Homo sapiens: one gene and its partner. The protein of the gene in region 1 purifies or fractionates together with the protein of each later gene. This does not show direct contact. Each region holds a gene or a part of one and is shown in the gene's direction. Other genes may lie near its edges. The genes, in order: BCDIN3D and ACACB.

Region 1 (4,270 bases):
ATAGTGTGAGACTCTATCTCAAAAAAAGGAGAAAAGAAAAAGAAAATATAAAGTAAAAACTGAGAGGAAAACAGCGCTTATTTTAACTCCTGATGGTACTGTTTGCAGGAGTCATGCTCCAGTGCCTTATAAGAAGTTTACCGAACTGCCAGCCTCATGGAGCAGGATACCCCTTTAAGATGGGTGGGCCAGGTGCAGGGGTGGGGTTGGGGGTCCTGCACAACTCTGCTGATGCTTGGTTGACCCTGACGGATATTCTGGGCCATCCTGGCTTTTGACTGGAACCTGCTACCTAGGTTGACCCTTCAGTTCCTCTCCTTATCAGCTCTGTTATTTCCAATCTCTGAGTCACATCTTGCCCAACTCCATTCCACTATGTCTGCTTCAGTTGGCATCCTTTCTCCCTTCCATTTAAAGTTTCCCCAAACAGATCTGGCCTTATTGTATTCTCTATTGAGTTTTCATTCAACAACATTTGTTGAGCATCTTTGTGCCAGGCCCATGTTAAGTATAGGAGACTCAAGGCTGAGAATAACACACCGTTGCAAGCACATCCTCTGGATCCAAACTCCCTGGGTTCGAATCCTAGTACCATCATTTCTAACTGTGGGATCTTGGACAAGTTACTTTGTTTTACTCCAGTGTCCTCATCTATATAAAAAGAATAATAATACGGTCATTTTCTCACGGGGTGAGAGGATTGACTAAGGAGCTTACAAGGGTGTCTGGTGCCTGGTAAGCACTCTTTAAGTGCTGGCTCTTAAGGCACGGTCCTTGCCTCTCAAGGAGCTCATGGTCTACAGTTGCCCCTGGGGGACAGGGCTGAGTCGGCTGGCTTCGCAAGTGACCTGCACCTCCTGGCTACCCTTTCCTGAACCGGGTGGAAGTTTTTGAGTCACAGATTCAATGTATGACCCCAGACAAGTAAGTTCTCTCGGTCTCACTTTTTGCATTTATAAAGAAAGGAAATTGGACTAAAATTGATTTCCAAGATCCCAACAAACTAGTATACTTGTTCTGGGTCAAGTAGCCCAAGTTTCAAACTATGTCAGCTTGGCCAAGACACTTAGCCCTCAGAGTTTGTTTCATCCCTGTAAAACGTGGATGATATTGCTAATCCCCTCCCAGTGTTGTGATGAGGGTTCAATAATACAAGGCAAGCCCCAGGCGCTCGCCGGCTCCAGGTATACAGCGAGAGGAAATCAGGACAGCTTTTCTGATTCACCGCAGAATTCTAGCCACCCGCCCTAGCCGTTCGACGCACGCGCGCTGGCACCGCCACCGCCCACGCCGACAGCAGGTTCCCGGCTTCCGGTTCCGCCACGGCCCAGAGGCTGTGTTGAGGCTAATGGCGGTGCCCACGGAACTGGATGGAGGGAGTGTTAAGGAGACCGCAGCGGAAGAGGAATCGCGAGTTCTGGCACCTGGCGCCGCCCCGTTCGGAAATTTTCCTCATTATTCTCGCTTCCACCCTCCGGAGCAACGGCTCCGCCTCCTGCCCCCGGAGCTGCTTCGACAGCTCTTTCCTGAGAGTCCCGAGAACGGGCCGATTCTGGGGCTCGACGTGGGGTGTAACTCCGGGGTGAGTGACAGGGGAGGGATTGGAGCATCCGGAGCCAAGTGGTTGGCTGCCTACACATCCACTGTGGTTCTGGCCTGGGCTAACACCCATCGAAACTTTCCCAAAACGAGTATAAAGCGTGGCTTTGACTGAGCCAGTGCCGCTGCTGCCTGCCCGCCAGGGTTCCACCATCTGTCTTAGGAATCTCTCTTGGAGAGGAGTCCTTGTCGACTACGTTCCCACTTTTCTTTCAGGGCCAGACCCCAGGTGGGAACGGTCCTTGTATCTAGGGTGGCCTCTGTCCAGCGTGCCTGGCGCTTTGGCTGGGGAGAGGGGGCTTCCAGAGACACACGTTTGGGAACATGGGGTTAGGTTTGGTTTACTGGGAGAGAAGAGCCAAGGGTGACAGAATCATGCCTGATATTGAGACTCATGTGTGCTATACAGTGCAGGACAGACCCTGGGACCTGCATGTTTATTTCAAAAAAAGTGAGTAGGCCGGGCGCGCTGGCTCACGCCTGTAATCCCAGCACTTTCGGAGGCCGAGGCGGGTGGATCACAAGGTCACGAGATCGAGACCATCCTGGCTAACACGGTGAAACCCCGTCTCTACTAAAAATACAAAAAATTAGCCGGTCGTGGTGGCGGGCGCCTGTAGTCCAGCTACTCCGGAGGCTGAGGCAGGAGAATGGCGTGAACCCGGGAGGCGGAGCTTGCAGTGAGCCGAGCTAGTGCCACTGCACTCCAGCCTGGGCGACAGAGCGAGACTCCGTCTCAAAAACAAAACAAAACAGTGAGTTGACAGAGTACAGTGGAGAGGATCGAGAAGCAAATAAAGCATTTTGCCCAAGGGAATGGAGAAGGGCGGCACTGCCACTCTTCTTGCTGCAAACTATTCTTAGGCATATGATTATAATCAAACCACATGCAAAATAAGGAAATGTCTCTCCCACACCTATTTGTAGCCACTGGGATATTCTACACTAGCAGGCAGTCTGAACTTACCACGGCAAATGCTTCAAAAGTTAGTACCCTCTCTGCGCTCCCTCCATCACTCCAGTCCAGCATCTGGAGGGCGGGGGACAATTCTGTTACGTTGCTGTCCTTTTACAGAAGAGACTTTGGGGGACGACTTCAGACCTTGTGGGACTCAGATGATAGTAGGAAGGGGACATTTGGATACAGTCTCAAAGACTGGAATGAGGAGATGGGTTGATGTCCTGTGTCCCCTGCAAAATTTCTCCGCTGTGATGATACGGGAAGTCAGAGGGTAAAAACAATGGAAAAGAGAGACTGAGGTTAAGGCTTGGGATTTCACGAAAGGCATTAGGAAACCACCAGAGATTTTAAAGTTGAGAGTAGTATACACATGAGAGGTAAAGACATAGTTGGCAGCTAACTAGGGTAGTGGTTCCCAAACCTGGCTGTACGTTTATGGAGCTTTCTGTTTTGCAGTTTTTAAAAAATGCTTTTTCTTGTGGATCTTTGTAGTCAGGAAAGGGAAAAAAAATGCTTGCGCTTGATAAAACAAAAAAATTCAAACTACAAAGGGGTATATACTAAAAAGTAAGTCTCTACTCCCAACCCTAAATCCTCCTTTTCCCCCACACAGTGGCACTACTGTTTATAATTTCTTAGGTATCAGTCTTGTGTGTATACCAGCATTTACGTACATATAAGTACCCCCCTTTTAGTTTTACAAATGGTAACACACTATTAGTAGCTTTTAATTCTGAGATTATTTATATCACCACATTCTTTTTTTAGCAGCTTCCTAATGTTTCATTGGATAGATGTACCATAATTTATGGGTGCTTTTTTTTTTCAATTTTAAAAACTCCTTTCCCAGCCTGGGCAACATGGCAAAACCCCATCTCTAAAAAAAATTAGCCAGGTGTGGTGGTGGGCATCTGTAGTCCCAGCTACTTAGAGAGCTGAGGGAGGAGGATCGCTTGAACCCAGGAGGTCGAGGCTGCAGTGAGCCTTGATTGTGCCACATACCCCAGCCTGGGTGACGAAGTGAGACCCTGTCTCAAATAAAACAACAACAAAAAACCCAAAAAACTGCTGGGTGCAGTGGCTGACGCTGTAATCCCAGCATTTTCAGAGACTGACGCTGGTGGATTGCTTGAGCTCGGGAGTTTGAGATCAGCCTGGGCAACATGGCAAAATCTCATCCCTACCAAAAATACAAAAATTAGCTGGGCATGGTGGTGTGCACCTGTGGTTCCAGCTACTCATAAGGCTGAAGTAGGAGGATCTCTGGAGCCTGGGAAGTCAAGGTTGCAGTGATCACACCACTGTACTCCAGCCTGGGAAACAGAGTAAGATCCTGTCTCAAAAATAAATAAATAAATAAATAATAAACATTTTCAGCACCCCACAACTTCCCCTATATGCCTTTTCCTGTTCATAAACCTCTATCTCTACCCAGAGGTAACAACTAGCCTTCTGTTGTTTCCTTGCTTTTCTTTATAGTGTACTGTTTTTCTTCCCTGAATGATGTACTTTAATTTCACCCATTTTTGAGCTTCATGTAAATGGATGCTTTTCATATATTTTCTGTTATGGCTTGCTTTTTTTCTCAACATTATGTATTTGTGAGAATCATCCATGTTGTGCACCAAGCTGGGTGCCTTCATTTTTTAACTGCTATTTAGTATTCTATCTTCATGATTATACCACATTTATTTGTCCATGCCACTATCA
Region 2 (3,814 bases), about 59 Mb from region 1:
TGATTGATTGTGAATGGGTTTCCTCTGTGTACCCCCATCTCTCTGTAGACCGTTGGAGGAATATGGGCCGAGGGTGATATTTCACTGAGACAGCCCCTGAACAGGCAGATATCTTTGGTTGTATAAACCAAAAAGTATCTGAGACAGGTCTCAATCAATTGAGAAGTTTATTTTGCCAAGGTTAGGGACACATCCAGAAGCAAAGAACACGGAATCATAGAAACCGTCTGTGGCGTGTACCTTTCTTCAAAGATGATTTGGAGGGCTTCAGTATTTAAAGGAGAAAAGCAGGCTGGAGGGGAAAGAGGGAAGTTCTGGTAATCACATGTTGCAGGAGAAAAGGCGCAGGCAGGGGAAGTCAGTTATGTATTCTTCCTGCGCTCAGTAAGTCAGCACTTTCTATAAGATAAGGTGGACATAGAGGAACTACCTGTGGAGATATTTCAGCTTTTATCTGTATCTATCTGCTTACTAAAGAAACAAAAGGAAAGGCAGCTTGCACAACTCAGCTTCAGCTTAAATTGTTCCTTTTGGCATTGTGAATCGTGGTCCTAGTTTTTATTTTCCTTTCACAGATGGGAGCAGTGTGATGATTTATTTATTTATTTGAGACAGAATCCCGCTCTGTCACCCAGGCTGGAGTGCAGTGGTGTAATCTTGGCTCACTGCAACCTCCACTTCCCAGGTTCAAGCGATTCTTCTGCCTCAGCTTCCCAAGTAGCTGGGATTACAGGCGTGCACCACCACGCCCAGCTAACTTTTGTATTTTTAGTAGAGATGGGGTTTCGCCATATTGGCCAGGCTGGTCTCAAACTCCTGACCTCAAGTAATCTGCCCGCCTCGTCCTCCCAAACTGCTGGGATTACAGAGCAGGGTGATGATTGTTGATGCTGCACTTGCCCTTTTAGAAATCTTAGCACTCATTTTGAGGGTTCTAGATGCCAATTTCATTTTGCCTCTGGATGCTTTGTCTGCTTCCAATCTCTCACCTTGCTGCCCAGTCAGTCCCTTCTTGGGAAATGCATCCACCTTGGATTTTTTGGGGCTAGAGCCCAGCCTTTAACCTGTGCTTGCTTTTGAAGATACATGATCACGGATATCATCGGGAAGGATGATGGCTTGGGCGTGGAGAATCTGAGGGGCTCAGGCATGATTGCTGGGGAGTCCTCTCTGGCTTACGAAGAGATCGTCACCATTAGCTTGGTGAGTCTTCTTCTATTTTCTCTTACTTTTCAACTTTCCATTATAGAAACTTTAAAATTGTCACAAAATTAGAGAGAATCAATAATAAGCCCCATGTGCCCGTCACATACCTCCTACAGTTACCACATGCCAGCCCACTGATATTTCCTCAATCTCACCCCCATCCCCTGCACCTGTTTTAGAGTATTTTAAAGCCAGCCCCCATCATGTCTTTTCATCCATAAATACGTAAGGGTAGATCTTTAACAGATAATGACTCTCACCCTCTTCCCCCGGTTTTTAAAAACATAACTGAAATACTAATATTACACCCAACAGAATCAGCAATATCATTGAAACCCAGTGTGGTTTAACAGTTATCTCAAAATACCCTTTTCTAGTGGTTTGTTTGAATCAGGGTCCAATCTCATCTTATTTTCAAGGTACTGAATGTTTAGAAGAACTTTTCTCTGACTTTAACTGGCATATAAGGAGTAGTCCCCATCCCATCCCCATGGCCTTTCCAAAAATGTTTTCTGTTTCTAGTAGTAGTACTACTGTAGTAGTAGTAGTAGTACTAGTAGTAATTCTAGTACTAGCAGTGGTGGTAGTAGTGGTGGTGGTAGTAGTAGTAGTGGTAGTAGTGTTTGTGGTGGTGAATCTGTATGGGTCTAAGGCAGAGTGAGAGACCGAGGCAAGTCTCTCAGCAGGAGTGAAAGTTTATTAAAAAGTTTTAAAGCAAGAATGAAATGAAGTACACTTGGAAGAGGGCCAAACAAGGCAACCTGAGAGATCCAAGTGCCTCATCCAACCCTTTTGAGGTTTTATGCATTGGCATGATTCCAGGGTTTGTGTTTCTTCTCCCCTGATTCTTCCCTTGGGGTGGGCTGTCTGCATGCACGTGGTCTGCCAGCACTTAGGAGGGGCCGCATGAACAGTGTGTTTACTGAAGTTGTGTGCATGCTCACTTGAGGCTTTCCTCCTTTACCAGTCGAGTGTTCCTAGAAGAAGGGCACGGTACCAGATAAACTCTGCCATCTTACCTCTTAGCATGCATGCTTGAGCCCACCCACCCAGCTCCTGAGATCTTATGGGGAAGCTGCTTATCACTAGCTTCAGGTGTTTTCTATCTATCAGGAGATTGCCTTTCCCTGGAGCCAGCTGTGACCAATATTAATTTTAGAGAGACACTTTAGCAACTGCCTAACTATCACCTGATGGTTGCCTTCCTCTCCTGCCCTGCTCATGTCTGCTTAACTACCTACTCTAACAGCAGCAGCAGCAGGAATAATAGTACTCTTTAATGATAAACTGCCTTGGAAGGCCTTATTTGTACATGCAATGTTGAATCTTCAGTTTCCAAGTGGAAAATGTTGGTCATAAGCATCTTCCTTGGGCTTGTTTTCTAGATTATATGTATAGTCTTTTTATTTTGAAGTCATCTAGGACCCACCGTAAGTTATAAGATACTACAGAGAATTTCCAAGTACCCTTCACCCAGCTTCCCCTATGGTACTTACATAACCGTAGTACATTATCGAAACCAGGAAACTGACATTGGCACAATATTGTTAACTCAGTACAGACCTTATTTTGAATTTCACCAGTTTTTACATGCACTCCTAGGTGTCCTTTTGGTTGTTAAGAGGCTGCAATGGCCCATGAATGCCCAGGCTCAGAAGAGCTGCACACAAGCCTCTTAAAATCTGAAACATTCACTGTCTGCTGCTTGTCTTTACAGCAATCTTTGTTAACCATGTTATTTCCAGATAGGAATCCAAGCTCAATAAAGTGGCCTGAAGAATAGGCTTTTGCCTCTACTGTGGTTTGGCTCCAAATCGGGTTGCCATTGGTCAAAACATAACTTCCATTTGGTCCCAGCAGGTTCCTGGACTCTTCCCTGCTGTGGGGGGTGGGTCCCTCGCCACTCTCCAGAATTCAGAGGGGGTCCTCTCTCCACAGGTGACCTGCCGAGCCATTGGGATTGGGGCCTACTTGGTGAGGCTGGGCCAGCGAGTGATCCAGGTGGAGAATTCCCACATCATCCTCACAGGAGCAAGTGCTCTCAACAAGGTGACCAAAAAGGGGCCTGTGCAGAGTGGATCCTTGGGGGCCAGGAGTCATTTTAACATTCCCATTGGTCTCTGGTGGGGGATTTTTCTCAATATGAAGCCAGTTTCATTCCTACTGATACAAGAGCTCTTTTTTTCCAATTTGCAGCTATCTGGGTCCTTATGAGAAAAAAAAAATTAGTTTTAGGCAATTCTGGTCGATCTAACTCCCTGTATTACTGACATTTTAAAACAAATTATTGAAGTGCCATTACACATTGCAGAAAATTAGAAAAGGAACCCCCCAAAAAAGTAATTTTGCAGCTTCTATCATTCTGGTATAGTTCCCTCTCATCTTCTGTCTTTATGTGGTTAATTTATAGTGAATATGCAGTTTTGTATTCTACTTTTTTCACTGTATTAAAACATTTTCCTTGTTGAAAAGTCTCTATACTTAATGTCTGCTCAAATCTCAGCCAAAGTCTCAAAGCCTGGTTCTTGAACCAACAGCATCAGCATCAGATGGGAACTTGTCAGAAATGCACATCCTCAAGCCCTGCTGCAGACCTGCTGAATCAGAA

The links.
Region 2: the proteins of BCDIN3D (region 1) and ACACB purify together in Homo sapiens (affinity purification with mass spectrometry; one large-scale study listed by BioGRID and IntAct). This does not show direct contact.

Annotation. Positions count from the first base shown.
Region 1 is NC_000012.12:49,840,166-49,844,435, reverse strand, and holds the start of BCDIN3D (RNA 5'-monophosphate methyltransferase), read left to right. Parts: upstream 1-1,329; 5' UTR 1,330-1,348; coding exon 1,349-1,582; intron 1,583-3,281; exon of another isoform or gene 3,282-4,270. UniProt on the Homo sapiens protein: O-methyltransferase that specifically monomethylates 5'-monophosphate of cytoplasmic histidyl tRNA (tRNA(His)), acting as a capping enzyme by protecting tRNA(His) from cleavage by DICER1.
Region 2 is NC_000012.12:109,248,902-109,252,715, forward strand, and holds part of ACACB (acetyl-CoA carboxylase 2), read left to right. Parts: intron 1-1,082; coding exon 1,083-1,203; intron 1,204-3,144; coding exon 3,145-3,255; coding exon of another isoform or gene 3,256-3,420; exon of another isoform or gene 3,421-3,677; intron 3,678-3,814. UniProt on the Homo sapiens protein: Mitochondrial enzyme that catalyzes the carboxylation of acetyl-CoA to malonyl-CoA and plays a central role in fatty acid metabolism.